5 separate regions of the Homo sapiens genome follow, and regions 1, 2, 3 and 4 are each linked to region 5. Evidence: fine-mapped expression QTL. A gene starts in region 5. Each other region holds a variant in brackets. All regions are shown on one strand. Distances are from middle to middle.

Region 1 (6,316 bases), 11 kb after region 5:
TATTCAGTGGGAAGTTTTGCTCTCTGCATCGCACCGCAGCCCCTCAGCCATGAACTCAGCAAACACTGTCCCATTTTGCCCCCAGTAACAAGCACAGGGGCACCATCACAGGCTAGTACCCAGTGTGAACTAAGTCTTGGGAACTTACTGGAATTGTTGGAAGATATGCCCCTTTTTAGTAATGCACATGGCTGTAAATATTAGGTACAATTTGATTTCAGACTCAATTCATTATGTGTTTTGGCTCAGCTGTGGCCTGCATATGGTGTTGCTGATATAGAAATGAAAATGCTGGTGAGCCACAGAAAGAAAAATCCTGTGTTTTCTGAAAGCTTCAAACACCTTTGGCCTTGTTCCTTAATCACCTGGGAGGAAGAGAACCTACAAAAACTGGAAACGCAGTGGCCAGCAACCAGCCCTTGAGAGGCTTGCTGAGCTGTGAGGGTCTGGAGGAGGAAGAAGCTCTACATTGTTTCTGCAGCCCCCGTGCAAAACAATGTTGAATTCCAGCGTGATATTGAAATGAATGTATTTTATTTTAATGTTAAATCTTAAATTTTTTATTAAGTCCTTTGTTCACAAATGGAAACAACAAAATGACAAATTATTTAAAATTTTCAGATTTTATAACCTTCCTGTCCTCTAGCAAAAAAAAAAAAGAAAGAAAGAAAGAAATTTGATTCCCAATGTTGAAAGGGGGGCCTAGTGAGAGGTGTTTGGGTCTTGGGGACAGATCCTTCAGGAATGGCTTGGTGCTGTCCTGGTGGTAGTGAGTGAGTTCTTGCTCTATGGAACATGAGAGCTGGTTGTTGTGAAAGCGCGTGGCACCCCACCTCCTTTCTTCTTTGCTCCACTTCCCCTTCCACCATGACTGGAGGCAGCCTGAGCTTCGGAAAGGAGGCAGTCCTTTAAGACAGCCGTGTCCAATATAAACAGAATATGAGCTATGCCTGCCTGTAGTTTTAAATTTTCTACTAGCCAGGTTAAGGAAACTAAAGAGAAACAGATGGAATTGATTTGTAATAATATAATTTATTTGACCCGATGTATCCAAAATATCATTTTAATGTGTGATCAGTATAAAAATACTAATGAAACGTTTTACATTTCTTTGTCCTAAATCTTTAAAACTCACTCCATATTTTACACTTCTAGCATATCTCAGTTCAAAGCAGCCAGATTCCAGATGTTCTGAGGGCTCTGACTCCCTGAACTCAGGAAGGTGAAGGGCCTGAACCCCACTTCTCTGCCAGGAGGGAGGGAGCTCCCCCTCCCTACCCACATCTCTTCTCAGTCCCAAAGGAAGAGAGAGTGCCCTGAGAGAGCAGGGGCTGCCAGCAGGAGGTGGCCACAGGTAGGCCACTGCTGCCCATCTGCTGCTTGGTGGGGCCATTCTCCCCTCCAGAGATCAGAGGACAGCGGGGTCCCAGGAGGTGGGTCCTGTCCACAGCCTTGACCTCCAGAGTTTAGATTTGGAGGGAATAGATTCCAGACAAATGCCTTACCTTGCTATTTGGCCTTTGCCCTAGTGGTCAGGCTGTCATCTATTTCCTCCTGTGTTGTGTGATACTGTGTGAGTTTTAAGCACATACATGTCTACATGCATTTCTTTATAATTCAAGGGACCCAACTTCTAATAAGGGGAAAAGGAATTCAGTACCTAGACGGTCCCTATAGTGTGCCAGCTAACTTGTAGTCAGCATGTTGTTAATCCTGGCATCCTGTCAGCTCTGGGTGTGTTAGTTAGCTGTTACTGTGTAATGAGCCATCCCAAAACTTATTTAGCTCATGATTGAGCAAGTCAGCAATTTATGGCAGGCTCCTGCCATAAATTAATTGCTATACCTATAAAACCTGCCGTACCTTTATAAGGTATAGCAATCTTCATGTGTGTGTATGGGAGAAGGGGGTCAGCTGCTGGTGACCAGACAGCTCTGCTGTTGAGAGTGAGTTGGCTTGTGGACTGGGCAACTTTGGTTCTCTTCCGCAAAGTGTTTCATCCTCTAGCAGGCTAACTTGGGCTTGTTGTCACGGAGATAGCACGGTTCTGAAAGAAAAGGAAGAAGCATTCAAGACCTTTTGAGACTGGGCCCAAAACTGCCAGCTGGATCCAAGTCTTGGGAAACAGATTCTAACTCTGGATGGGAGCAGCTGTAAAAGCGCATTGCAAAGGGTGTAGACACAGGGAAGGATGAAGAAACACGTATAAAGCACTTCACATGTTTGGAAATTCTTTTCATCCCATTTTGGTATTTGTAGGCTATTACTGGTCTTCAACACAGACTAAATCAAAATGCTGTGCCCAAAACAACCTCTTACTCTGAAAGCAAGTGATGTAAAGATAGATCTGCTGAAAAGACATTTCCTCCTGCTGCAATTTAGTCAAGCAGCTGAGCACGTCTTGAGCCGTCCTTTGATTTTAACAGGGCAGAGCTGTTTTCTAAGACTGCCCACCACCCCTCCCCGCAAAGCTGAGATGCTGCGATGAGGCAAATCCCCGCAGCACACAAGGAAATCAGGCACAGCTAAGGTTCTCACCCCTGATGCACCTTACAATCACCTGGGTGGCAGGGGGCTTTTAAAATTCCCAAAACCCAAGTTGCAACAGACCAGTGAAATCAGAATCCCTGGGGTAGGATCCAGACATCCTTGCTGTTTAAAGCTCTCCAACTGGTTACAATGTGTGGCCAGAATTGAGAACCACAGCATGAAACCAACGTCTTTTGATGAACTAGTAGCAAATGGTTTCTTAAACGAATGTGAAGTCTTTGCTGCCGAGCTGTAGCCTTTCAGTCTTAATTGCGTTATTTACATTACTTACTTACTTACTATCTTTTGCAGGACTTGACCTCTGCTCCTCGTTTTGTTTCTGATTCAACTCAATTTCACAAGTGCTGAGTGCATATGATGTGCAGAGCACCGTGCTAGTTATTGTGGCCTTGGTTTGGGGAGGACTTTGCTGGGAAATAAAATCACATCGTCAGAAATAAGAGTCTTACTACTTACCAAATTGAGGCAGAAATGGGAAGACCTAGGGGGTCTCACCCAAGGGTTAGGACACTAATAGATACATCAGAATATTACAGTTCATCTGATGATGCTGTGAGTGGAAGTGTCCCACTTTGAAACAAAAAACACTGCTGTTACTCTGAGATACTAAGTTATGTGTGCAAATATGTGGTATTTAACTATTTTGTTGATATATAACATGCATATAGAAATACGTGCATAAAGCATTTACTTAAGCTCAATATATATTATGACAAAATTGATACACGTGGGTAACCAAGAAATAGAAGCAGCCTCACTCATGTGGCCCACAAGCGCTTTCTGCCTCCCTCCTCTTCAAATGTACCAGTGTCTTAACAGCTGACATTACAGATCAGTTTTGTCTTTCTGTGCAAGTCTTTTCGTTACAGAAAAATTTAAATATATAAAAAATGAACAAAATTGTATAATAGAGCCGTGACCCAGCTTCAACAGCTAATAATCATGTGCCATTTTTGTTTCTTCTGTACCTCAGCCCTTTCCCTACTACCCCTCACTTTATTTTTTTTTTTAGTTCTTTTTTGGTGAGGTAAGATACACATGCATTGAAAGGCACAAATCTTAATTGTAC[A/G]GCTTTGAAAAATAAATACACCCATATAACCTTCACCTCTTTTCAGAATGGAATATTTCCATCATCCCCAGAAAACACCCTCATGCTCATTCCTAGGCAATTTTTAACTCCCCCAGAGGAAAGTACTGTTGTGGGGGTTTTTTAACTGTAAGTTCATTTTGCTTGAAATCATAAAATATACATTTTTATGTCCAGCAGTCTCAGCATAATATTTGTGAAACACCTCCATAGTGTGTGTTTTAGTAGTTTGTCCCTTTGTATTGCTGAATAGTATTCTGTTGTATGAATGCACCATGGTTTGTTCATACATTTCTCTGTTGATGAATATTTGGGTTATTTCCTGTTTTGGGCTATCATAATAGTAAAGATCTATGAACATTCTTATACAAGTACTTTTTTGTATTGTTGTATTCCTTTATTAGCATTGAAGTGACACATTTTTTCATTTTTTAGCAGTTCCTCCAAGGATTACAGTGTGCATCATTAACATTCTCACAGTTTAGAGTTAATATTGTACTGTTACAGTGAGTGTAAAATAGAAAAACTTGCTACAGAATAGCACCATTTATCTCCTATCCTTTGTGCTGTCGTTGCCATAAATTTTACATCTGCACATGTCATAAACCCCACAACACAGTGTTATATTTGCTTTAGTCATAGATCTTTAGGTGAAATTAAGAGGAAAAAAAAGAAAAATATATAATAAATATTTGGAGGGAGATGTTTTGAGGCCACAGAAACATACTGTTTCTTCATCCACAATTTTTGCATTCGTTGATGACTCTTTCCTGCAGTAATGATTACTGTGGTGTTCTAGTGGTAGTTTTCTATTTGTGCTCCTTCAACATTTATTACTTGGAATTCTTCTGCAAGGAAGATTTGTCTTTCCTTCCTGATTTATGTAATCTTTTCTATATCAGTATGGACTTGTGGATATTTATTTTATGTTCTTGGTTACAATTTAGTGCTGTCATAACTGTTTGCCACTCACATTGTTCCACCTTGAGTCATAGAGAGCTCTTCCAGGTTGGCTTCTTTTGACATGTCCCCACCCTTTTATGTTTTTTAAAAGCACTTTCTTATTTTCTGGCACTGCAAGTTGCTCTAGTCTCATCTTGTGTTTTTCGTGGCAGGCCTAGAATTAGTCATTTCTCCAAGAAGCCTTGGTTTCTTTTATAGGAGAATGGTATTTAGAAACCAGGATCTGGGTACTGGGTGTGCTCATTAATACTGGGATATCACTGCTTCGAGGCCCTCTCAGCATAGTTTGGAAAAATGTGAATGTTTCCAAACATGTATGCATGAATACAAACTCAGCATCTACCTATCTACATCTGTCCATCTAAACAGATACATTAAAATAGACATGGGTTCATACTGACATTCCTAACTCCAGTCCAGCACCTTAGGGTTTATTCTAGCATTCTCCCTTTGTTTATTTATAACTCTTTCACCTACAGAGAGAAACTGGGCTCTAATTCTCTAAAATATATTTGCTAACATGGAAAATCATTTCAGAATTGCTCACCCATACCCTGAAACAAATTTGCCAACCAGAATACAGTATGTTTGTGTGCAGTTCTTGAGTCTTACAGTATGCAGTCAAAACAGTATTTTCAAAGGTTACTTAGGTGAAGACTTTTTTCCCCCACACTCTTCAATATGGGTTAGTCATAATTTTTAACTCAGTAAGATTCATTTGTCACCAACTGCATTCCATCTGACCCGCCCACCATCTTTGTTGATTTTTAAATTTACATAGAATAAAATTCATTCTTTGTAACATACAGTTTCATGAGTTTTGACAACTGTATAGAGTTATACATTCACGTTCACAGTAACACAACTGTCTCATCATCTCTAAAATTCTCTATTGTTGACGCCTCTTTGTAGTCAACCGCTTCCCCAACCGCATTCTTTGGCAACCACTAATCATTTTCTATCCCTATAATACTGCCTTTTCTAAAATATCATATAAATAGGATTATAGAACATATACAACACAGATGAATCAATTGGGTTGTTTGTTGTTGTTGAGTTGTCAAGAATCACTTGGCAATATATGTGAGAGTTTATTTTGGGGCTCTCTAGTCTATTCTGTTCATCTATATGTCTGTCTTTATGCCAGCACCACATTGTTTTGATTTCTGTAGCTTTGTACTAAGTTTTGAAATCAGGAAGTATGCGTCCTCCAACATTGTTCTTTTTCAGGATTGTTTGGGCTATTCTGGATCCTGAAATTTTATGTGAATTTTAGGATGAATTTTTCTGTTTTGCCCAGCACATCATTGGGATTTTTACATTCTTGGTTTAGTTAATTCCTAAGTATTTTATTCTTTTTGATGCTATTGTAAATAGAATTTTCTTAATTTCCTTTTCAGATTATTCATTATTAGTATTTAGAAACACAGCTGATTTTTGTGCACTGATTTTGTATCCTACCATTCAGCTGAATTTGTTTATTCTAACAGGTGTGTGTGTGTGTGTGTGTGTGTGTGTGTAATCTTTAGGGTTTTCTACATCTAAGATCATATCATCTGCAAACAAATATAATTTTACCTCTTTCTTTTCAGTTTGGATGCCATTTGTTTATTCTTCTTGCCTAATTGTTCTGGCCAGAACTTCTAAGCCATTTTGAATAGAAGTGGTGAAAGCAGGTCTCCTTCCTCTGTTCCTATCTTAGTAGAAAACCTGTCA
Region 2 (6,316 bases), 48 kb before region 5:
GCATGTGTTGAATAGACTTAAATATATAGAGTAGATGGCTTTCTGTTTTCCTGGCTTTCACTCCCTTTCTCAAGGCCTTGGCTTGTTCTTTAGCCCAAAGGGAGTGGGGTGGACAGACTACCTCCGAACCTTGGGTGCCTTTGATTTCTTTCTTTGTATTTGATGTCATTACAATGAACATTGATGCCTGCCATGTGCCAGGACTGAGTCCCGGATGCCCAGAGGAAGGAGGCACCATTCCCCTGAGCCTGCTAATGGGTCTTCCATCCACCCTTCTCATTATAATGCAGAGTTCAGGTTTTGAGACTAGGAAAACTTGAATTTGACTCCGCTGGGTCACCTGCCAGCTGCTGACAGCCACTTAATTCCTCTAGGCCCAACGTCCCTATGTGTAAGCACAATACACAATTAGGGTTGCTGTGAGCCTTATGCAAGGAGAGGCTTGGAAGTGCTTGGCAGCAGCAGATGGTCCACCCAGACTGTCTGGGTAGGCCTCGGTCTGCTTCCCTCCAGGTCTGTGCCACCTTCCCTCAGGCTCCTGCAGAGGCAGCCCGTCACCTTGTGACCAGGCTGGAAAACAGCACCTGGCAGGAGGGCATGGGGACTAGGAGGGTCCCTGTCTGGAGCCCCTGCCAGTCGACCAGGCAGCATCTCTGGGATGGGTGGCTGGATGCCAGTGCTCTTGTCCTGGCACCCCTCTGTTTCGTGCACAGGCTCGTGGTGGCAAACTTCCAGACCTCTCCACATTCTCTGTCCTGGTGATGGTGGGAGTGTCTGCCCCTCTGAAAGGTGCCCCTGGAGGTTGGGAAATGGCCATGCCCTTTGAACCTCACTTCTGGCCCAGGGTCTGGCTCAGACAGAGTGCACAGAGTGTGTGTTGAGGAGGGTGGAGGAGTGGCAGCCCTTTACCTATGAGCCAGTGCTCTGCAGGTCTGCCCAAGGGCCAACATCCCAGGTCCCAGCATCTTCTGAGAAGACATCCCAGTACCAGGGTCCCTGTTGGATAGTGCCTCTGCCCATCTCTCCTCTGGCTCCCAGCAGGTTCATGGTTGCAGTGGCCTGTGCGGGAGGGGTGCAGGTGATGGGGCCAGGGACTTTTGCAGGAAGGAACTAGGACATTGGCCAAAGAGGCTGCTTCCTGACCCCAATTGTGTCCCTAATTTACTGTGTGACCTCCACAAGTCATTCAGCATGTCTGGTCCTGTTTCCCCTCCCCCCCACTAAGTGATGGGTACAATAATACCACAGTCCCTGTGACTGTGTTTTATTCAGGAGTCAGCTGTGGGCCTCCCTGACACTCCATCCCCAACAAGGTCCAGTGTTGGGAGTTAGTTGGACCTCCACCCCGATCTTATATTTTCCAGCAGCATTTTGGGAAGGAATATCCTGAAAGGTAAGCCTGCCTGTTATCTCCTCAGAGGGTTCAGGAAAAGCCAGCCCTCTCTATCCCCTTTCCCCACTATGATCCTCCAGGTCCGTTCACCCAATCATTAGGCATGAACTAATTGAACACCTGCCAAGACCCAGGTAAGCTTTTGCATCTAGAGAGAACTAAGACACAGCCATGGTCCTGGGGGTCTCACCCTCTTAGATGAGAGGCCAGCAGGAGAGGACATGTGGGTCGGGTTCAAGAGTGGAGTAGGGAGTTGCAAGTAGCTAGTGCCCACCTGGGCATGGTCTCATGGGCCCTTGCCAGGAATGTGCATGCCTTCCTGTGGCCATTGTAAGGCTTTTAGCAGAGAAGGGAATGAGATTGAGAAAAAAAATCTCCATGGCCAGGGCTGCAAGAATGGCTAAGGTCCTTGGTGGTACCATGGGCACGTGGCAATGACCGGAGGTTTGAGAAGTAGAGTAGGCAGGGTCTGGTGGTCGAGGGGCATCTAAGGGAAATCAGACCGAGTTCTAGCTTCCCAGTTTGCACTCATGGGCAGACAGTGGTGCTATTTACTGAGGGGAGATGAATTGAGGAAGAGTAGGATGGAGGAAACACCGGGCCTGCCTGAAGGTAGATGCCAGACAAAGGGAGGAAAAGAGAAGCCTGAGAGGAAGAAGCAGGCACAGATCAAGGAAGAGAAGCACAAGAGTGCTGGCCCAAAGGGCAAGAAGTGTCCAGAAGAAGGGGGCTACAGAAAGGTCAAGTTAGATAAAGGCCATAGTACACTTATCCAATGTGGCCACCAGAAGGCCAGCTGGTCAAGGGTGTTGCTGAAGGCAGAGGACAGTGGGTCAGGAGTGAAGGTGAGGATGCAGATCGAGAGTGTAGACAACAGGCAGAAGGGGAGAGAGATGGTGTGGATAGAGGGGGTGTAGGGTCATAGATGGAAATATCCCCAAATTTAGGTGGATGGGCAGGAGATCATTGCTGAGAAGGGATCTCTTAAGAAAGGAGAGGTGGAGCAGAACAGAGGGGGCAACGATGTGAGGGTGGCAGTGACACAGGGTCATTGGAGAGTGGGGACACCTGTCTGTTGGGCATCGGCTCATGGCTTAGGGCAGGTTACTGGGCAAGCCCACAGACCCCTAGAAGAGAGGAGCTCCTGCCATGTATGGCGCAGTCTTGTCATTCACCATGCACTCTAATTTCACATATTGAGTACTTGGTATGTACTGGTCACTGTGTTGGACACAGGGGACATAAAATATGGTAAGACACATTCCCAAAGGGGCTAACAGTACTGTGGCCTCTTACTCAAAGGCTTGCACCCAGGGTTAAGCTTCTAACAAGTTGGAAGGCAGACATAGACACCTCCATTTGCCTTGAGTACAAACAGATGTTCAGAGAGGTTTAGTGACTGGCCGAAGGTCATGCTGCCAGGAAATGGCTGTGTCTAGGACAGTTCCAGGTCTCCTGCCCATAAAACCCAC[C/T]CAGGCCACCACGTTCAGTTTCAGCCAGGTGGCCATCAGGGTTGACCACCCTGTTAGACTCGGCAAGAAGAATACAAGCCAAAGGCAAGCACATGCTCATTCTTCTGATCATCCTCTGTGTGCCCAGCCCTGTTGTGGGCATGGGCAGCAGGGAAGGAGACATGAATTCCAAATCGTGACCTTGCCATCTGCAGCTGAGGGTGTAGTTGGAGAATTTGATGTCCCAGGAGAGGGATGTCTCCTGTTTCCTGGCTCCCTAGGAGAGGGCAGAAAGCAAGCCCTCTTGAAGGAGAGAGAGGGTGGCAAGGGGAAGGTAAGCAGGGACAACTCTTCCCCTCCCTCAAAGGAGGCCACTCAGGAATCCCAGGGAAGCCAGGCAAAAGCCCGGAGAATAAAGGGGCCTCTGAGCCTCCTCTCCACTGCTGCAGTCCTGACTCGGGGATTTCAGGGTGCAGTCATCAATCCCGCCTCAAAAGGAGAAAGCCCAGGCCAGTGGAGCCTGGCTGCTGCAACTTCTTATACGAACAGCTCTGGAGGCCCCACATCTGAGCTGGCAGCCTGGACTGGAAGGAGCTGGGACCCCTTGTTCCTCCTCCTCTTCTGGGAACTGTGAGTGAGCCCTCACCCATGAAGGACCAGGAGAGGGCCACAGCAGTTTCCTCACTCTCTCCCCTCCCTCCTGAACTTCCACCTGGTCCTCCCCTTCCCCCATCCTATAATCCATCCAGTGACCCTTCCTCTCTGGATCCAGGCCCTGCACCCACTTCCTAGGTCAAACTCCAAGGGCAGCCCAAAGTCACTGTGATTGAGAGAAAGAAACTGACTTCAGGACAGACCCATCTGTTCTACTCCGGGGCCAGCTGGGGGCCTTTGGAAAGGGAAGCTGGTATCAGCAGGAAGCTGAAGCCAAGTTGAGGGGACTCCAGTGAGTCCCCTTGCCTGTGCTCCCTCCTACAACAACTCCCCCACCCCCAAGCTGGAGAAGCCACCCTGGGTGGTTCAGCTGGATTACGCCTGGCCCAACCTTTCCCTCCCCTGACTCACCTGCAGACCCAGGCTGACCCAGAAGCCCTGCTGCCTGTCTAGTGTCTGACCTCTGAGAGAGCAGGTTCTTGGGTCTCCCTCCATCTTCACTTCACATTCCTGTCCACCAAGAGCTCTCTCCATCCACCCCTCCCTTCCCTTCAGCCCCCATGGTCCTCTGGGGATCTCCCTGAAGGCTGCACCTGTTATTCACCTCTTAGTCCCTGGCTCCCTGCAGCCTGCAGGGGCCTGAGATGGGCACCAGGACAAGCTCATCTGCCCTGTCGCATCTTTCCCCAGCCACAGCAGTTGCCCTCATTCTAGATGGATTTTCTCTCCCCTTCCTAGAGCTGACTGTGTCCAGTAGAGGGAGGGGTGGGCATTAGTATGGAATGCCAGCCTAGATGGATGGTCAGTGCCAGGCTCCGGGACATAGGAAAGTCCATGGTCATGACCAGGAGTAGCTGATCACCAGGAATGCAGTTGGGGCTCCATGCCCGAAAGCTAGGGAGACTCAGAGCTGGATCTGGGCCACAGAGTGAGGGGACAGTGGCTGTTGGTTTATATTGAGGGGGAAATGGGGCTGACAGGACTAAGGCCCTGGGGCTGAAGGGCATAGGAGCTCTTGCTAAAATTTAGGAGGCTCTGTTTGGAGGAATCTAGTGTTGATAGAATTTCCAGAGCTGCTGCCTGGGCCAGGTAAGACCCACGGGACCCTTCTGTCCAGCTTAGGCTCCTGGTGGGTGCCTACCCTGTCTCATCACCTTCCTCCTAGCTAGAGGTCCCCTATGAGGCATGAAGGTGGTGGGGCAGAGGCCCCTGTCAGGGCCTTCATGTCTGCCTGGCGGCTGGACCACCTGGCCGGAGAAAGGAAGCCGAGGTAGCAGAAGGGCCTGCCTGAAGATCCTCTGAGCCTTCCTCCTCCTCTTCTACTCCTTGGCCCAGGTGGTTGTATAAATTACTATTCACCCTATAAAAATTGTTTAACTACATCATAAATATTTGGATAATGGGGGAAATCTCAATCTGATTACTGTTAGCATTTTGGTTTCTTTTCATTTATTCTCCTTCCTATGTGTGTGTCTTGGGGATTTCCCATAAGGGCATCGCAGAGTACTGATGATTGTGCATTCTGCTTTTTCACTTACCGTATTCACCTAGTCAGCCAGTGTCAGCTGCTGTACTGTACCAGGCACTAGAAACCAATAAAAAAGTGTGATTCCTACACTCAGGTAGCTTATTTTCCAGGACATATTGGCCATCAAATCCAGTTAGGATGTGGTATGCAGATATGATATCATATGGTTATGATATGATATGGTACATCTTCAAGAAGCTGTGTCAGGGACATGATGGAGAAGCCACTCTCCCAGGATCTTGTCAGCAAGAGGGAAATCCAGGAGTGCTTCCCAGAGGAGGAAGGTGTTGACGGAGGTGAATTCTAAAGGATTCTACAGTTCCTTCTCATGAAACCGTCTGGACCTGGTGCTTTTTTCAGTGGCAGATTTTTTTCTCGTCAGTGGTAATTAAGTTTCTACTCATTATCTAGTTCATTAGGGGCACTTTATATTTTACTAGGAAAGCATTCATTTTCTCCAAATTTGTAAACTCTCCACTTTTAAAATTTATTATGAATTTCTTTGTGGCCAAATGATTTTTCTAAGATTTTCATAGACATAGAAAAAATATATATTTTCTATTTAAGGGATATAAGGTCCCATATATACCAAATCAAGTTTTTGGTTATTCAAACTGTCACTTCTTTTGTATCCTTTGGGGGAGGAGGCTTTTACTGTAGTTCTAACAGAGATTTAGCCTTCCACTCAAATTTTGTCTATAAATCTCTTCTTTTACTAGTTTTTGCTTTTTGTATTTACTATGATGCTGTGGGGAGCATGCAGATTTTGAGTGTTCTCTATAATTTTCTCTATAAATTTTCTCTATAAATCTCATCTTTTACTAGATTTTGCTTTTTGTATTTACTGTGATGCTGTTGGGAGCATGCAGATTTCGAGTGTTCTCTCATTACGAATTGTGCCTATCATTACATGGTGTCCCTCTTTATCCCATTTCAGTGCTTAACCTTAAATTTCACCCTTCTATTATTATTATGGCCACTCTTTATTTTACTTTAGCTTTTGCACTTTCCTGGTATCTCTTGGCATTCTTTTATTTTCCACCATTATCATTGTTTAAGTGTTTTTCTTGTATATATACATCACTGGGTTTTTTTGTTGGTGGTGGTGTTGATTGAGACAGGGTCTTGTTCTGTTGCCCTGGCTGGAGTGCAGTGGCAACATCACAGCTTGCTTCAGCATTGACCTTCTAGTTTGAGGTGATCCCCCCACCTCAGCCTCTACAGTAGCTGGGACTACAGGCATGCACCATTACACCCAGCTAATTTTTTGTATTTTTTTTTCTTTTGGAG
Region 3 (6,316 bases), 27 kb after region 5:
CAGCAGGCAGGGTGTGTGCAGCCGGAAAGGGGGCGTCTAGGTTCCAAGGGCAAATCCCACCCCCTTAGAGGGGATTGGAGAGCCTGGGAAAGAGGCTGGGCTGCCTGTGATCCCCACCCCACACCCTGCCTCCTACAAGCCCCTAGAAGGTCCACACTTTGAGTTGTCAGCCAGAGACAGTAACTCAAAACCTCGGCTTCGGGCAGCCAGAAGCCCAGAAATGGGGGAGAGGGCAGGCCTAGACACCAGGGATGAAAATAAAGTGAATATTAAAAATTACCTGCATGTAATGTTTCATATATTCTACATATTTTAATATAAATGCCAGAGGTTTTTGAACCAGAGCAACTCCATCTTGAATAGGGGCTGGGTAAATAAGGCTCCACCCTCAAGCCTGGAGAATCTTGAATAAGGCTGAGGCCTACTGGGCTGCGTTCCCAGGAAAGTAGGCGTTCTAAGTCACAGGATGAGATAGGAGGTCAGCACAAGATACAGGTCACAAAGACCTTGCTGATAAAACAGGTTGCGGTAAAGAAGCCAGCCACAACCAAGATGGTGATGAAAGTGGCATCTGGTTGTCCTCATTGCTCATTACACGCTAATTATGATGCATTAGCATGCTAAAAGACACTCTCACCAGCACCATGAGAGTTTATGAATGCCATGGCAACGTCAGGAAGTTATCCTATACCGTCTAAAAGGGGGAGGAACACTCAATTCCAGGAATTGCCCACACCTTTCCTGGAAAACTCATGGATAATACACCCCTTGTTTGGTATATAAGCAAAAAGTAACAATAAGTACAAGCAGTTGAGCACCCCATTCCACTGCTCTGCCTATGGAGTGGCCATTCTTTTATTATTATTGTTATTATTATTATTGAGACAGAGTTTCACTCTTGTTGCCCAGGCTGGAGTGCAATGGTGCGATCTCAGCTCACTGCAGCCTCCATCTCCTGGGTTCAAGTGCTTCTCCTGCCTCAGACTCCTGAGTAGCTGGGAATACAGGTGCCTGCCACCACACCCAGCTAATTTTAATATTTTTGGTAGAGACGGGGTTTCTCCATGTTGATCAGGCTGGTCTCAAACTCCCAACTTCAGGTGATCCGCCTGCCTCCTCAGCCTCCCAAAGTGCTGGGATTACAGGTATGAGCCACCGTGCTTGGCCACTGGAGTCGCCATTGTTTTATTCCTTTACTTTCTCTAATAAACTTGCTTTCACTTTATGGATTTGCCTCGAATTCTTTCTTGCACGAGATCCAAGAATTCTCTCTTGGGGTCTGGAACAGTGCCCCTTCCCAGTAACATAAATATGTAATAAAACAAAGGTCCATAACTTGACCCAATTGGAAACACAAAATTTACTATAAGGATTTATATAACAAAGAGATAAAAGGGGCCGTGATTGGCTTTTGTGCCTGTGCAGCATGGGCTCCAGATTAACAAATGCACCAATTGACAAAGCTTCATGAACTTAGTCAATGCTGGGACTCAAATTACAGTTATACCTGGGAATCTCACTAAATTTAAACACTGCAATGCCTGTGATCCTGGCAAAATAACTATAGAGGAAAAATAGCCATGCTTTATTTTAACTGTAGCTTTGCCTAAATTTCTCATAAGCATAATACTCATTGCCCTAAAACATGCTCTAACACAATGAGTAATATGTATGATTCAATTAAGTCTTTGGCACCTACAAATTGGCTTGGACCTTGGAGGTCCCCAGTAAAAATAGTTAATATTGCTATAATTATGAGGTAAATTGGACCTTGCAGGTCCCCAGTTAAAATAGTTAATATGACTCTACGTAAGTTATAGCAAGATGTGTTAGTCTGCTAGGGCTACCAGACACTGGGTGACTTTAACAATAGAAATTTATTTTCTCACTGTTCTGGAGGCTGGAATTCCAAGACCAAGGTGCGGGGTATTTGGTTTCTCTGAGGCCTCTCTCCCGACCTGGGATGACCTTTCCTATGAGCACACCCAGCACTGAGGTCTCTTTATGTCTCCAGATTTCTTCTTTTATAGCGACACCTGTCATGTTGGATTAGGGCCCACCTTAATGGTCTCACTTTAACTTAACCACTCCCTTTAAAGGCTGTATCTGTAAATTCAGGCACATTCTGAGGTACTGGGGTAAGGGCTTCAGTATGTAATTTTGGGAGAGACACAATTCAGATGTACAGGACCTTCAAGTTTAAAACTTAATATATAAAACCTAATTAATAAAAGGGTGATTCTCTCTACTGCTTCTCCATTTGACAGCTCAGTCTTGCCTGTGCTTAAGCCTGGAAAAAAATAAATGGTGCTTCACAGTGGATTACTACAACCTTAACATTGTAATCCTTTCATTAAGACCCCATACCCAACACCCAGTATTATGGAACTTACTGACCCCATCCAATCAACAACTGGTAAATATTTTGCTGTTATAGATTCGGCTATCATGTTCTGTTCAGTGCCTATTTCAATAGCCTCTCTGCCTTAATTCACCTTCACCTGCAATGGGACACAGTACTTCTTCTCTAGGCTACCCACGGGGTATCCCAGCAGCGTTGCCACCACATACAATCTTCATAGAGCTCTTAACTGCACCCGTTTCTCCAGGAGCTCAGGGTGCCCCAGACCTTCATCCCAGACAGCATTGCCCTGGAGCTCACAGCTGGAGATGACATCACCACAGACATCCCCAACCCAGCCCTGTCCTGCAAGCAGGATTCTGGCCTCCCTAGTTAGGCCTCAGAACTGGCTGATCACCTGGCTTCATAAACCTGGGTGTTTTCAGGGAAATTTTTGATCTCTACAAACCGTGACATGTAGAGAGGGAGACATATCTGATTCAACAGTCCCTGATCCACTGATCCATGGACATATTTGCCCACAAGGAATAACCAAGAATCTCTCTCTGGTGGAGGTCAGGGGCATTACATGAGCTGAGTAGAGCTTAGTTTTTAATCCCTAGACATAGGCAAGGTGTTTAAGTTATTACGCTTCCAAGCAGCATGGCCCTCACTCACTCAAGGTGAGATAAATATTGCTGCAAAGGAACAGCAGCTGCATTGTTGGAGTTTCGCTTTTGAGGCATGTGTGTGTGC[G/A]TGTGCGTTGATTTCTTTCACAAAATACATTTTCAAATACTTCCTCACTCCAATCAACATTGCCCCTTCCTTTTAAATAAATTTTTTGAAAACTAATAAGCCTATTTTATTTATTTACATTTTTTATTTACATTTCTTTACAAACTGTTCGCTATTAGTCTACAGTGAAAAGTCAACACTTTATAAAATAAGATTGGCATTTAAAAGCTTCTCAATTCTAATACTTTGAAAGGCTACGCCGATTTTCAGAAAGTCTGGGCTATTCAAAATATTTTACAAAATTCTGAAACTTTGAAAAGCTGCAAGATTTGGAGACAGCAAGACGAGGCGTTTTTTCTTATATCCAGTTTTGTTCGTTATATGATGAAATAAGCACTTTTTAAATTAACAGCTTGAATTCTAAAATATATTTTTGAAAATCAATAATGATTTTTGTAAAAATAGAAAATCTGTTGTACTTTTATCTTAAAATTCATTTCTTATCTATTTTCTAGATTTGATGTTTTGCCATTTTAAAGAATACTAGACAAGAGGATCTCAATCTGGATCACTATATTGGGCTCCTAATATCCTGATATAATTTTAAATCATCCCAAACAACGCATTATTACCATATACATCAGCATTTCCCAAACTGTGCTATAAGCTATGTATACTATTGATATTTTTGAGCTAAAATATACTTATAAATACATAAAAATATATTTATCTAGGTGGTGTTATGCAATAATGCACTTTTCAAAAAGAAATGATATACCAGTCTCAAGAATACCCGGAAGCTGCATGAAAATTCTTGATTCCTTTTATATATAGTGACAGAAAAAGATGTAAATATAACAATTGGTTATTTTTATTGTATAAAGTTTTTTCTATAAGCACATGTGAATTAAGTATTCATTATTCCACATTCCCCATGTCACCAACGCTGGGTGCCCACAGCACAGTTATTCTAACACTGCAGCTGCGGGACTGAGGGTGGCAGACTGGGCACCTGCACTGAGCCACATTCTTCACACAGTCGGACCAGCCCTGAGCCGGGGGCAGAAACATCCTGACGTGAAAAGCTGTTTGCCAAGTACAATGACCACACGTTTCGTCTATTTTGAATACACCATCACAACAAACTCTACGTTCTTGACAGATGAGACAGGCAGATATGATCTTTGAAGGCGAGTGAGAATGACGTTCACACAGACTCCCATCCTCCCTCACATGACTGGAGGATTAAATGGCGGCGGAGGGGTGGATGTTCAGCTCAGGGGCAGATTAGTGACACTGTCACAGCTATTTTAGGACCTGAAATATTTATATGATCCTATTCCAAACCCTAATACATAAACAATGAACTCAAAACTGTACACAAAGGGAAACAAAAAACCACTCTGACAGTGTCCAGGTCCCTCATAAACTCCCCAGAAGTCAAGGAGGTCCAGGCTGTTCTCAAATTCCTGGGCTCAAGCGATCCGCCCACCTGGGCCTCCCAAAGCTCTGGGATTACAGGCATAAGCCACCACACACGGCCTAATAAGTTCTTTTGATATGTTTGGAATGAATGTGTTTCCAAGGGTAAAAGCTTACAATGACATCTTTCTTACCTGTAAGATACCCGAAGAGCAGAGAGAGGGTCCCCAGGCTGGCTAAGCATCCAGAATGCTGGAGGAGCTTTAAAAACATAGATATGAATTATTGTGCTTCACCCCTTACTTACTGAGTCACAATCCCAGGGATGGAAGCGCCCAGAGATCTGTCTTTTCAGAATTTCTCTGGCTCTCCAGATGGTGCTGACAATCAGGCAGATTGAGAGCCAGTGCTGCAGGCAGCTCGTCCCAGACCTCGGGAGCAGGGGAGTCACCCAGGGCTAGGTCAGACTGAAGGTTCTGGTGCATCAGGGGTGGGGAGGGGCTTGAGAGTTGGCCTTTCCAACAACCTTCCCAGAGGGGCTGGTTTGCTGATCCTCAGACCAGGCTTTGAGGGTGCACAGCACTCTTCCTCTAGGTGTGTGTCCACATACCTGGCACCTTTGTTGTTGCATTGCCCCAGGTATAAAGTGCAGGGTGCCCCCTCTACGCCTTCAGCCCTGCTCTCTCCCCTGCTGACCCCCAAATCTCTGGGGCTTGGACTTGCCTTTATAAAGGGACCTCTCAGCTCAGGGGAGGGCCCTCCCCACTGGCCCCCTCTTCCCAAGGCCCAGCATCAGTGGGAGCTGCTTGAGCAGCCCCTCATCCTGAGGGGTCTATGTGGTGTGAAAGGCTGAGGGACACTGTTCTGTTTATTGTCAAGGGCCAGGAAACAAAGCCTGGAAACAAAGTCTGGTATTGCTCAACCCAGTGGTGACGAGTGACAAGATAGGGTGGGGTGCAGAGGAGACTCCCACACACAGCAGGACCGAGTGAGCATCAATTCTTCCTTCTAACACTGGCACCAAGGAGAGACCGCTGTCCCTTCCCATAAAGGCAGTGGACAATTGGAAGCATCGCTTGGTGTGCCAGCTCCTTTGGGGCAGGAGAACAAGAGGAGCCCCATCCCAAGCACAGTGGATGATGAAGGGGGTCCCGGGCTCCCCAGATCCTGGGCTTCTCTTGATTCTCAGTGTTAAGCTTGTTGATTGAATATAGTTGGTTAATGTGGACCCCAAGGCAAGGAAAAGACACAGGCCAAGAAACGGGGGCTTCAGTCAGCTCTGAAAAGTCAGGAAGAGCATTTGTCTTTTTTTTTTTTTTGAGACGGAGTCTCGCTCTGTCACCCAGGCTGGAGTGCAGTGGCGCGATCTCAGCTCACTGCAAGCTCCACCTCCTGGGTTCACGCCATTCTCCTGCCTCAGCCTCCCGAGTAGCTGGGACTACAGGTGCCCGCCACCACGTCTGGCTAATTTTTTTTATTTTTAGTAGAGATGGCGTTTCACCATGTTAGCCAGGATTGTCTCGCTCTCCTGACCTCATGATCTGCCTGCCTTGGCCTCCCAAAGTGCTGGGATTACAGGCATGAGCCACTATGCCCAGCCAGGAAGAGCATTTCTAACATCCAAATGCAAACGTCTGCCACCCCGGGCTGCTCCCCTCTGGAAACTGCACTGCAGGGCACAGCACGTCCCAGGTTTGCCTTTCCTAATTCCCTGCACCACCCAGCTCCCGCCTCCCTCACTTTGCGGGATGAGAGGCCCACACAGACAGTTCCTTCTCACCTTTGAAATGGCAGTGGTGGCTGCAGCCTGGGAGCTGA
Region 4 (6,316 bases), 35 kb after region 5:
ACCCTGACCTGAAGTGATCCACCTGCCTCTGCCTCCCAAAGTGCTGGGATTACAGGTGTGAGCCACTGTACCCAGCCCCCAAATACCAACTATTCTTTTAAAAAAATTATGAGTATGTTGGAGGCACAGTGGCTCATGCTGTAATTTCAATACTTTGGGAGGCCAAGGCAGGCAAATTGCTTGAGCCCTAGTGTTGGAGACCAGCCTGGGAAACATGGCGAAACCCTGCCTCTACAAAAAGTTTTTAAAAAATTAGCCGGGCATAATGGCATTCATCTATAGTCCCAGCTACTCAGGAAGCTGAGGTGGGAGGATTGCTTGAGCCCAGGAGGTTGAGGCTGCAGTGAGCTGTGATGGCACCACTGCACTCCAGCCTGGGTGACAGAGTGAGACCCTGTCTCAAAAAAAAAAAATATATATATATATATATATAATATATTTATTATATATATTTATTTATTATATATTATATATGTATATATTTATTATATATATATATATTATGTTGGGAGAGATGTCCCTCATAATTAAACTAGGTTAATACAGATGATTTTATTTAACAGCTGAAATGGTTCTGTTACCTGGGAGCTTGTTTTATATTTAGTTGATCTTGGAGGATCCATCATGAACCGCCCTAGAAGCGCCCACAGTTACATGTTCCATGAGTGCTTGATGGAAAACCATGTATTTCTGAGGCTCTGGTGGCAGGTAGCAGTTATGCAATGGCATGAGGAAAATCCATTTAGTAGAGTTGTCCAAAAGTGCAATGGCCTGGCTCGGTAAGCTGTAAATTCTCTGTCCCTGTGAGGGGTAGAAAGTGAGGATGGAGAAGGAAGGAATATGCCAGACAGGGGTTGAACCAGATGGGCTTCTTCCAGCTGTCAGCTTCGTGACTACGGGTACTGTCCATGTCTCCAGGATCCACCTGGGATGCCTCTGATAATGTAACCACGTACCCCCATTTTTCTTAGGCAGTTTATTCCAACAAGTGAGCTATGGTGCAGGCATTGGGCCATGCGGTATCTGTTTGACTTTCAGGGCCTTAGGTCAGCTTGGTGGAGTTCTCTGGGTCCCTCTAGAGAATCATCCAACCCAGGGATGGCCTGCAGGGTCCCGCCCCACCACTAAAGCACTTACATTCACACAAAATCCTGGAGCTGAATGTTCTCAGCAGGCTTATTCCTCATAGCCAAAAGCTAGAAACAAATCCAGAGGTTCTTTGAGGAGCGAGTGGTGAAACAGTTGGGGTCATTGTGGAAATGGAGGGAAGCCTTTGGAGAGATGTATAGGAAGAACGAACAGGACTCGGTAATGGATTATTCATGACATGGGGGGATACAGGCTGAAGAAACTCTCCTAGAGTCTGGATTGGGGTCCCTAGGTGAGCCGTCACACCATTTATTTAGACAGTAAGTCTGGGTCACAGCCAAGTCAAGGAAGATGACCTGGACAATAGAGTGGGATCAGTTTTAATCTGTAATGTCAAAGAGGCATTTCAGTCTGGAAATCAGCTAGGCAGCTGTACATATAATTCTGAGTGGAGATAAAATCTGGAGGTTGTAAGAATAGAGTTAATAATTAATGCTTTAAATATCAATTTGGTCACCCAGAGAGCTTGGGGTTCTTTTTTTCTGGCATACCAATAAAAGAATAACAGAGTCCAGGGGTGAGTTATGACGCACTTCAGATTTTAAATCCCAAGCAAGGGTTGTGAGCGCGCTGGCAAACCTTGGGGAGGAGCACAAGAAATGCAGGAGGAGAAGGAGAAGCATCGGCGTCAAGAGCCAGGAGCGAGATGGACCCCAGAAACAAAAGGAGCCACTTACCTGGACTGCTCCTGGGATGTGGTAATGGAAAGTGGCCATTAGATTTTCCATCATGGAACTGTCAAAAGACAAAAGTACAACAGATTTAGTTTAAAGATCCTAATTGGCTTTATTTGCTATTCTAGAATCAGGCAACACTTCATTCCATAAAACAGACTGAGCGTTCCTCCAAGCAGAGTGGGGGAGATGGGCTTTATGGATAGAAAAGGCTGAAGTGGAAGCAAAGAACAAAGCATAGATTGGTTGCAAAGTTACTTTCCTTGTAAACATTAAAGCAGAGGGGAAGGACTGCTTATCACTCTGGCTAAACCTGGCCTGTTGGAGATTTGCCTTTTATCTCTCTGTGTCCTGACTTCTCAGAAGGTCAGATAAACAACTTAGTTTTGGTTTGGAAAAGTGGAACTTTAGCGCAAGGAACTCCATTCCAGTCCGGTCTTGTTACTGAACTGAACCTGGGTCTGCTTGCCCCGTGTGGTAAAACCAAACACCCACACGGAGGTTTGCAGCAGGAGAAAGGAGGGTGTTAACTTGCAGGACACCAAGCAAGGAGAATGGGGCAGCTTACACTTCAGACCCAACCTCCTGGATGGCTTACAAGCAAGGGATTTTAAAGGCAGGGGAACAATTCAGGAAAGCAGAAGTTACAGGGAAACCATAAATCAATGCAGAGGGTATACATTGGTTTGGCCCAAAAAGGCGGAAGCTCTTGAAGCAAGGGGCTTACAGGTCATAGGCGGCTTCAGGATTCTTTGATTGCAATTGGTTAAGGAAGCCAGGCTTTGTCGAAAACTTGGGGTCAGCAGAAAGGAATGTTAAGGTCTGGCCTGTGGGCATGACTCTCTCCAGGCCCCTGAGAAAGAAATTTACAACAAAGAGCAGCCGTCAGAGTGCAGCCCTCAGCTCCCCGACATCTGAGGTCTCTGTGATGATGGTCAGTATTTTCCATCTGACGTGGGTCCGGGTTTCTGAAAAACCATTCATGGACATATGCTAAGATGTAATCTTTAGTTTCAATAGGGGACCAAACACCTTGTGGCTCTGACTTACTTGAGTGCCTGTTACTTGAAGCTATTATTCCCTTCTTGCTTATCAGGTGGCTCATTTACTTCTCAAGGCCAGCTAGGTACCTGGAATTTCCCTTGAAGGAAATCAAGATTTTCCTTTGTTTCCATGCTGGAGGAGGCCCAGCAGGCCTCTAATAGGGGTCCATGCTCCGTCTCAGTCTGTTGGGCCTAGTGCAGAAGCTCAGTCCAAACTAATGGCCTCCTGTAAATGTATTTTACAGAAGTCAGCAGTGTCCACAGCAAGGGAGAGTTTCTTGAGCAACCTGTTGGGAGACGTAAGAGTGCAATAAAGAGTGAATGTCAGGTGAAAACACTGAAAAGATGAGGACTGACAAGTATTTACAGAGGGTTAACTCTGAAGTGGTTCCAACAAACTGGGATCTTGAAAAGCAGGTCGTGGAGGGAAAAATGGCTTCCCCTTCCCCTTCCCCTTCTAGGTTCTTTGGCTGGGCTAGGAATTAAATTGACATAAGAAAAGCTAATAGGAGAAACACCACTTTAATTACATCTATATGCACAGGAGTCCCC[C/A]AAACTATAGACTAGGAGAAGGGCCAGATGAATGAAGCTTAGATAGTGTCCTGAGTTACAGAAAGGAACAGGGGCTTGGGGCTTGCTGAGGATGGGCACAAGTTCTGGGAGGGTGAGGGGAGGCAATGTCTGGTGAATAAAAGGTGTCTTGTTCTGCAGAGAAAAGTCTCTGGGGTGATAGAAGTTGTCTGGAACCAGCCCTCTTCCTGATACAGATACTTCACTAATGTAGATTTCTTTTATAGTTATAAATTTCTTTTACAAAAGGGCAGTTTTTCAGAGCTACTCCTGTGTCTGCAATTTCTTAGAATAACAAGATCAAAATTTGCCTAAGAAGTATATTTTGTGTTCACATATCTGGTTTTGTACTGTCATATTTTGGGGTGGTGTGTCCTGAGCCCCACCAGCAAGGGCCATGTTATAGGAATACAATTTTTAATTGACTTTTTAGAGTTGTTTTGAATTCACAGCTGAAGGGGCTTAGAGTATGCCATCCCAAAATATGCCACTCTGATACAAAGATTATTTTGAGCTGAAGACAACTGAGACCAAGTAGACACAGGACAAACTCTCTGCCCTGTCCCCATCTACCAGAAGGGCAGGATGGCTCTTACCAGCCCAGAGGTAGCACCAGAAAAATCAACATCACAAGCACACCAAATCAACCTTATCTGTCAGCTTCCCCCATAGATCTACCTTCCCACAACTTGTTATCCAAAGAAGCTCAAGGTCCCCTTCCTTTGTCTTTCCACTTCTCTACAAATACATTGCTCTCTCATTAAGATGCTAATAAGCCCAAGTTCTAACCACCTTTTTGAGTTATTACTTATCACTGAGCTCTCCCATGTGTATTTGCGATGCATGAATTAATAAATGCGTTGTTTTCTCTTGTTAACCTGGCTTTCATTGGTCTAAATTTGTGGGGCCAAGGCAATAAACCTTAGATGGGTGGAGGAAAGATTTTTTCTATACTTACACAGCAAAATTGAGCTGAGCGTGCAGAGAGCTCTCATATACACCCCTCACCGGCCCGCATGTGCTCACGTGCGCACACACACACACACACATACACACACACACATGCACAGCCTGCCCTACTGTCCATGTCCCACATCAGCAGGGCGCATTTGTTACTACTGCTAAACCCACACCAACACATCATTATCACCCAAAGTCTGTGGTTCACATTAGGGTCACTCTTGGTGTTGTATTGTCAGTGAAAAGAGCCAAACTCTGTAAAATATTTGAAGAGATTTATTCTGAGCCAAATGTGAGTGACCCAAGGTACAGTCAGTCTCAAGAGGCCCTGAGAACATGTGCCCAAAGCAGTTGTTTTACAGTTTGGTTTTATACGCTTTAAGGAGACATGAGTCATTAATCAGTACATGTGAGATGTACATTGCTTCAGTCCAGAAAGGTGGGACAGCTCGAAGGGGGTCGGTGGGAGGAAGGCTTCCAGGTCATAGGTGGATTCAAAGATTTTCTGATTGGCAATTCATTGAAACAGTTATTATCTAAAAACCTGCAATCAATACAAAGGAGTATCTGGGTCAAGATAAGGGGTTGTGGAGACCAAGGTTCTTACCATGTAGATGAAGTCTCATGGAGGTCGCCCTTAGAGACAATAGATGGCCAATATTTCCTATTCAGACTTTTAAAAGGTGCTAGACTTTCAGCTAATCTCTAGAGGATTGGGAGGGCCTGGAAGGGAAAAGAGCTAGTTATGGTAATAGAGATTCTTTACGGATGCAAATTTTCCCCACAAGAGACAGCTTTGCAGGGCCATTTCAAAATACACAAAAAAAATCCTATTTTGGGGTAAAATATTTTTATTTCCTTCTTTATCTGTCATATGATGTTATACGAGAGTCAGGTGGGAAAGAAAGCTGTGTTATATATAGGGTTAAATAAAGCCCATCTGTTGAGATGTCAGTTTCTAGGGTATGACTCCCCAGGCCCCTTAGATAGGAATTTGGGCAAGAGAGAAAAAATGTCAGTTTAGTCCTCAGTACATTCTGTGGGTTTGAACAGATGTCTAATGCCATATCCACCACTGTCATATCATACAGAGTAGTTTCACAGTCCGGCAAATCCCCTGTGCTCTGCCTGTTCATCCCTCTCTCCCCCAACCCCTGCCAACCACTGCTCTTCTTACTGTCTCCATGGTTGTGCCTTTTCCAGAATGTGACAGAGTTGGAATCTTACAGTATGCAGCCTTTTCAGATCAGTTTCTTTCAGTTAGTAATATGCATTTAAGGTTCTTTCATGCAGCTCAATAATGTTTGGCAGAGACTCAAAGGCAGGGAGAGGAATGGGAAATCTGCGGTGGAAAAGGGGAAGAGGAGTCCTGATGGGGTTGCCAGCCACCAGAGGCGGCTGCTAGTGAAGTGGCCTCATTGTCTGGGGTGACACCCAAGGTTCATTGTCTCACAGCCACAGAGATCAAGGGCGAGGACACACAAAGGGTGAGGTTAAGAGTGGAAATTTAATACGTGAAAGAAAGAGAATAGCTCTCTGCTACAGAGAGGGGTCCCGGAAAAATAGGTCGCTGATGCACAGTGGAATGCAAAGATTTTTATAGATGAGCTAGTGGGGAGCAGTGTCTGATCTACATCGGGTGCGAAAAAACAGGACCAGGTGTGCCATCTGCATAGGGCACGAATCTCTGGACGCCCCCACACCAATCTTTTATTACGCACGTGGGTAGCTACTCCATGTTGCTTATTTCTTTCTTACTGTGCATGTGTTAACAACAACAAAAAATAATTAGGGAAGGTGAACCCCCCATGGTGGACATGCCTGGCGCCAGGTAGTCCCTTTTATCAGTGCAGCTGCAGGCCTCCCCCACCCCCCTGCAAGCTTCCAGCTTCCTCATCTATGTTTGCAGCTCCATCTTTC
Region 5 (6,316 bases):
TTTTGATTTGCATTTCTCTGATAATTAGTGAAGTTGAGCATTTTTTTCATATGTTTGTTGGCCATTAGTATATCTTCTTTTGAGAATTGTCTATTCATGTCCTTAGTCCACTTTTTGATGAGATTGTTTGTGTTATCCTGAACAGCTACAATTCTTTGGCTTGTTATTTTAGTGGTTGCTTTAGTGTTTATAGTGCATGTCTTCAACTGATCACAGTCTACCTTCAAGTGATAATATATCATTTTAGTATAAGAAACTTACATCAGTATACTTCTTCCCTCCTAGTCTTTAAGCTATGACTGTCATCCATTTTATTTTACATGTTGTAAATTCCATAGTACTTTATTATTTTTGTTTAAACAATTATATTTTAAAGAGGCTTAAGTAATAATAACAAATCATATATTTGTCCATGTTGTTACTATTTCCAGTGTTCTTCATTCCTTTGTGCAGATCTAGATTTCAATATGGTATCCTTCTTAAGGCCTAAAAGACATCCTTTAATTTTTCTTGTGGTGCAGGTCTCCAGGTAAGAAAGTCTTAAGTCTTTACAAGTCTAAAAATGTCTTTATTTCTTCATATCCATTATTCTCTTTTTGGTAGTATCTAGTTGGCTGTGACACTAATCCATTAAACTTTCCATTTCAATTATGGTATTTTTCAAATCTAGATTTCTATTTGGTAATTTTTCCCAATCTACTTGGTTATTTTCATACTCATGCTCTTTAATCCCCTTGTTTCTTTACATGTAAGACACACTTTATGTGATGTTTGGTGACTCTAATATCTTAAGTCTCTGTAGGTTTTCTCCTCTGTACATTGTTTCTGCTGGCTCTTGCCCATTATAAATGTTTGTGATTTTTGATTAAAAACTTACATTCCATGAAGCTGTCTTCCATTTTGCTTTTGCCAGGCACCTGGAAGGCATTAAAAACCTGATGTCACTTTAAATTTGCAGCTTGAGACTTTTTAGATTATACAGTTTGTGTGTGAAGCCACCAGTGGAAGGGCTGCCCATGGTTATATATTAATGTATCCTCACTCTCAGGAGGGATGTTTTCCCTCAGGATGGATAATCTTGTCTGCTGCTCCAGGGGCTGCAGGGATTGAGGGGGCAGGAGACAGGGGAGGCAGACAGGTTGATTCATAGTTCCCTCCTACACTAAACCTATCTTTTTGGTGTCCTACTTTTTTTTTTTTTTTTTTTTTTTTTTTTTTTGAGACAGAGTCTGGCTCTGTCGCCCAGGCTGGAGTGCAGTGGCGCAATCTCGGCTCACTGCAACCTCCACCTCCCGGGTTCACGCCATTCTCCTGCCTCAGCCTCCCGAGTAGCTGGGACTACAGGCGCCCGCCACTACGCCCGGCTAATTGTTGTATTTTTAGTAGAGATGGGGTTTCACCGTGTTAGCCAGGGTAGTCTCGATCTCCTGAATTCGTGATCCGCCCGCCTCAGCCTCCCAAAGTGCTGCGATTACAGGCTTGAGCCACCGCGCCCGGCTGGTGTCCTACTTTTGATGTCTTCTGCTAACCGTCCTACCTTGGACAGGATCTAAACTTTGTCTGCTATTCTGCTGCCCCATCCTCTTCCCAGACTATGAAAAGAGAGTTTCAGTATGACACTTGGCAACTATCTTAAGGGTGAAAAATGGCATCTAATTACTTCTTTGGGTTTCTACTTTCACTTTTTAATTTTAATTTTTTTGCCTTTGCGAACTCTTAATTATTTTGCAGCTCATTGATACATTTTTTAAAATGGTTCTTGATATGTATTCCAGAAGTTTTTGTTGTTTTCTGGTTCTTGTCAGCCCATGTTGCCGGAAATAAAATTCTTTCAACTTGTTCTTTAACAATTTACAGTATCCATATATTCCTTCCTGTTCTAGAGGCAATAGAGTGAGAACACACACTTAGGAGCCAAGCTGGCCTGAGATTAAGATCCACCAGCAATGTGACCTCAGTAGCCTATTTACATTCTGAGTCTCATAGGGTTGGTGTGATAATTAAATGAGGTAATATATGAACAACACTTAAAACAGAGACTGACACTGGTAAGGATGGACTTTCTTGTTATTACTATCTGAAAAAGTTGAAAAATTATGAGCCTGAGTAACAGTTATACATCTTACCCAATGGTTCACTAACCTCTGGTCCCTGGCTACCCCGGCCCCCTCTACCATGCAGTCACCCACACCCATGCTTATACTGATGGAGAGGAGTCAACTATGAGCTATTCACTGGATGACAAGCCCAGCTACTGTCACAGGTGCACCCCAAGTCCAGGACAGAATGCTAGCAGATAGCTGCTGGTCTGAGAAATGTCATCATCATATAAGCCTGAGTGAAAACACAGCCCCTTTACTACTAAGAAATCTGAAAACAAACAAACATAAACAAACATAATTTTAAATTTTGTATTTTTTATGATGTCATTTGTCCCAACAGCCATCTGACATCAATAGCCCTGATTACTAAAAGTCTCAACGTTATAGAAATGTTCTCCTCCTTTTTGAAAACCATGTTCATTTTTCCCCCACGATACAGCGCTATCTGCAAAGCCTTGAACTGATAACATAGCTCAGGGGCTAACTCTTGTCTTAGCAGAGTAGCAGCTGAAAAAAGAAGACAATTCTTAACAAACAGGGAGATCAGGAATGCTCACTTCTAAAAACATTATTTATTCAGGGCAAGTGGTATTTGTGACGTGCGAATGAAGCTTAAACTTCAGCTTTAATTTATAAGAATTAGGAAATGCAGATTAAATCTCTGATGCCATATTGTGAATTCAGTAAAGGTTAACTAATCTACGACGCAAAGACAAACGTTAGCTATCCTACGCTTATTATTCTGGAAATTTAATGAAAATTAAACAAGAAGACTCACAGAGTATAAGAATTGTCCCCCCGCCTTAACAGTGTTGTTTTCAGCCTCTGTTGCCTGAAACATTGCAGAATAATTCAGATTTTTTTAACCCCACCTTTTTATTGAGTAAAACCAAAGTACTAAACTAATAAATGTGAAAAAGGATGTTGGGTTTAAAAAGAAAAAGCCTCAAGACATCGAGCCTCTTAGATATTTTAAAAGTGAAGACTGAGAAGGAACGCACTGTTGCTAAACAGAATTATAGGATTATGGTCAATTTATAATCTTTTCAATATGGGATTTGAATGTTCTGATATTAGATACCGTGTACGTGCTTTATTTATATAGTACCTCCCGAGAAGAAAAAAACCAGTATTGGTTTATACAGTATTTGGCATGCTATTCACGTATGCAGTGATGTATACGATGTCAGAGCTAGAAAATAGCTTAGATACGATTTGGATTCAGCGCTGGGCGGCTCCGCCCCCGCCAAGCCCCGCCCCGTCCCCTCAACCCCGCCCGGCTCCGCCTCGTCCCCTCCGCCCCGCCCCGTCCCCTCCGCCCCGCCCCGTCTCCTCCGCCCCGCCCCGACCCCGGGGCATGCGCTGTGCGCCCGGCCGGCGTGGCTGGCTGTTTGAGGACTGCGCGCGGAGCTCCGTGGCGGGTGTCTGAAGTCGTGAGTTTACTGCTTGTAAGGAACATAGCGATCACTGGGAACCTGGAAGTAGAGACTCCTTTCTGCCATCCATCCGTCCCTCGGGCTGCTGCGAATCCCCCCGCCGGCCTCCAGGACCCCGGGCTGACTGAACGCCCGCACCGGTCCCGCCGCCCCAGGGCCCGCTACGCGCCCGGCATAATGGGAGAAAAATCACGACGGAAAGGCCCAGCCCCTCGCCATGCAGACGGGAAGCTTGGCCGCACGTGTGATCACCCTTACGCCCCTTGGAGTTTCACCCCCTCTTCGCGGGCTCCAACAGCCTGGGTCAGGCCTCCTTGTCCTGTGTGGGCCTCTCGGCTGCAAGAACACAGTCCCGAGCCCCGGCGAGCCCGCGCGCCTCCCACCCGCCGTGCACAGGCTGCACTTTACGCCCCAGCACTGCGCCTGCGGGACCATCTGGATCGCTTTTCCATTCTGATGACGTCCTGTACTTCGTGGCTGCAGGCTCCTCAAGCCCCAGGTCTGTGCAGAGACGAGCAAAGCAGCAGAATATCCGTGCCACAGCTTTCTGGAGCACCCATTTTACTACCAGATTTGGAAGGAACGAAGTTAAGTAATTTCCAAGGTAAGTAATTAAAATTTTACGATGAAAAGGCTAGAAACTCTTCTGCTGGTAATAACTGTCAGACATATCTGTGCCTGAAATGTCAGACTTTTTCTGAGAAAAAAACTGAAAACTTGTTTCCCATTATTTTAAATAGGAAAAATTATAGGGCACAACAAGTCAATAGAAAAAAACCTACCAATTTCCTAACTCACAGTGTGGCAGTAGGTTTAAGTTGCACATAAGTTAGGATGTAAAATGCTTAAATGTTGCCACTTGGTCACCCACATTTGATATGGTTGTTAACATGCATTTGCCTTGGATGCAGTAGCTGTGCGACCAGCAACATCACACGTGAACCTCCCCTTTGTCAACACACCAAAGCTTTTTGAAGTGACTGTCATGATCCTGATGGTCTACCAGTTGTTTCTGGAAGGAACATGTGGTTTTTTCCAGCAAACTATTTAGTTTAAAATGTTGTAATTTTTGAAAGCTCAAACATTATGTCTACAACCATCAGCCAAAAAATTTGAGACAGGTTCTTGCTCTTTTGCCCAAACTGCACCACGAAAGGGGTTCCAGCGATCCACCTGCTTCAGCCTCCCCAGTAGCTGAGACCACAGGTTTGTGCCACCATGCCTGTTAATTTCTAAATTTTTTGTAGAAACTACATCTCCCCACATTGCCCAGGCTGGCCTCGAACTTCTAGACTCAAGCAATTTTCCTGCCTTGGCCTCCCAAAGTGCTGGAATCACAGGCGTGAGTCACCAACCGCACTCAGCCTGAAAAATGTTTTGTGAGATAAATAGCTGCTATACAGTTTAGATATTAAAAACTAAGATGTGTTCTTCCAGGAAAGTTATACTTTCAGATATATTCTGTGTCACATCCTGTATGATGAAATAGATGGCAAAAAAAAAAAAAATCCCATTTAATTTAAAGATGGAAGCTGTAACTTCAAGTAAATTTGGAGCTGAGGAGTCCTTTCGGGCTATGACCCCAGAATTCTGGGGTTCTCTGTACTGATTTTTTGCTAGTGTCCACACACAAGCATTCCTTAATGCTGTGCATTAAACAAATAGACCTTTTTTAACCCCAGGTTTCTCTCCATTTACCATTCTGTTTCTCTGCTCCATGCAACTTCCTCACCTCATGTCCTCTCTTGCACCCACTCCTTTCCAGCTTTCCTCCAAGGTACTTTGCTGAAACGACTTTTATCTCAGTCATTTAGCTGCATTTGACACAGACGATACAATTGAGGAGTTCCACCCTTTCTTCTGGATTTTAGGGACCTTCCCTCCTGGATTCCCTCTCACCTTTATCCTCATCCTCCTGCTCCTCCTCCACCAGATCTCTAGTGATCCTCTCAGAATGATCCCACACAGTCTCATAGCTTTAAATACCATCCATCTGTTGATAACCACTAGGCTTGGGGCCTCTTCCCTGAGGGGAGCACCAAGAGTCATCCCTGACTCTTTTCCCTTCTCCCCCAACCCCCATGCAACCACACAGCAAGTCCTGTGGCTCTTGAGTGCAACCAGCATCCTGATTCACCATCTCCATTTCCACAACCAGTTTCAGTCACCTTCCTCTCCTACTGGGCTACTGCCAAGAATCCTCCAACCTCCCTGCATCTTGTCTTGCCCTGCTACAGTCCAGCCTCCACTCAAGCATCCAGAGTGATCTCTTGAAAATGTTAAAACATGATATAGGCATACCCCCACCCCTGTGTAAACCCTGCCACTATCTACTCATTGCAGTAGAATAAAAGCTCAGACAACCTGGTGCCTGCCTCTTCAGCCTCATCTCCTGCCCTTGCTTGTTCTTGCTATGTGGGTCAGATTTTCTGGTCTCCAGAGCTGAAAACAATCTTAACTGACAGACGTTAGATCATAGACTTTATCTACAGCATAAGGCATGGAAGGAAAAGTCTGAGAGAATGAAGGGCCAGAAAAGCTTGTTTAAAAAAAAAATAAAAAGCACAGGAAACTGGAAACGTAACTAACCTGTATGTATATACTTAAAAGAACATGGTAACAAAATGAACTCTTTAGAAACTGAGCCAACAGACTTGCAAACAAATAGAAATACCTTTGGTCCTACTCTGAAAACAAGAAGAATCCTTAGTGAGTATACAAGAACAAAAATTGTACACATTTCTGGGTCATAATGCAATAAAACTAGAAATAATCAAA

Alleles and levels. Alleles are on the strand shown, and positions count from the first base shown. SD is a standard deviation of normalised expression in the study named. Not every link is listed here.
As copies of C replace T in region 2, the expression in tibial nerve of the gene that starts at base 3,460 in region 5 goes up (small effect, 0.31 SD a copy in GTEx).
For the expression in skeletal muscle of the gene that starts at base 3,460 in region 5, allele A in region 3 goes with a lower level than allele G (small effect, 0.11 SD a copy in GTEx).

What was found. PIP is the estimated chance that this variant, and not a neighbour inherited with it, causes the effect.
Region 1: its variant is the best candidate, but not a certain one, in a credible set for the expression of LINC02693 in whole blood (TOPMed, PIP 0.58).
Region 2: its variant is the best candidate, but not a certain one, in a credible set for the expression of LINC02693 in tibial nerve (GTEx, PIP 0.56).
Region 3: its variant is the best candidate, but not a certain one, in a credible set for the expression of LINC02693 in skeletal muscle (GTEx, PIP 0.79).
Region 4: its variant is the best candidate, but not a certain one, in a credible set for the expression of LINC02693 in whole blood (TOPMed, PIP 0.71).

The regions. Positions count from the first base shown.
Region 1 is chr17:21,537,716-21,544,031 of GRCh38, reverse strand. The region is part of intron 1 of LINC02693 (long intergenic non-protein coding RNA 2693); the gene reads left to right. Among named protein-coding and RNA genes, the nearest start is that of LINC02693, 11 kb to the left of the region's middle. The variant A/G (reference allele first, on the strand shown) is at 3,620.
Region 2 is chr17:21,596,539-21,602,854 of GRCh38, reverse strand. No RefSeq gene overlaps it. Among named protein-coding and RNA genes, the nearest start is that of LINC02693, 48 kb to the right of the region's middle. The variant C/T (reference allele first, on the strand shown) is at 2,866.
Region 3 is chr17:21,522,273-21,528,588 of GRCh38, reverse strand. LINC02693 (long intergenic non-protein coding RNA 2693) reads left to right here. Exons shown (of 2, transcript NR_160801.1): 2 at 1-279. Among named protein-coding and RNA genes, the nearest start is that of LINC02693, 26 kb to the left of the region's middle. RefSeq lists an enhancer at 5,811-6,311. The variant G/A (reference allele first, on the strand shown) is at 3,098.
Region 4 is chr17:21,513,970-21,520,285 of GRCh38, reverse strand. LOC105371589 (a long non-coding RNA gene) reads right to left here. Exons shown (of 4, transcript XR_934332.3): 1 at 2,874-6,316; 2 at 1,827-1,884; 3 at 582-801. Among named protein-coding and RNA genes, the nearest start is that of LINC02693, 35 kb to the left of the region's middle. The variant C/A (reference allele first, on the strand shown) is at 3,419.
Region 5 is chr17:21,548,822-21,555,137 of GRCh38, reverse strand. It overlaps LINC02693 (long intergenic non-protein coding RNA 2693), which reads left to right and starts at 3,460. Exons shown (of 2, transcript NR_160801.1): 1 at 3,460-4,142. RefSeq lists a silencer at 3,397-3,566.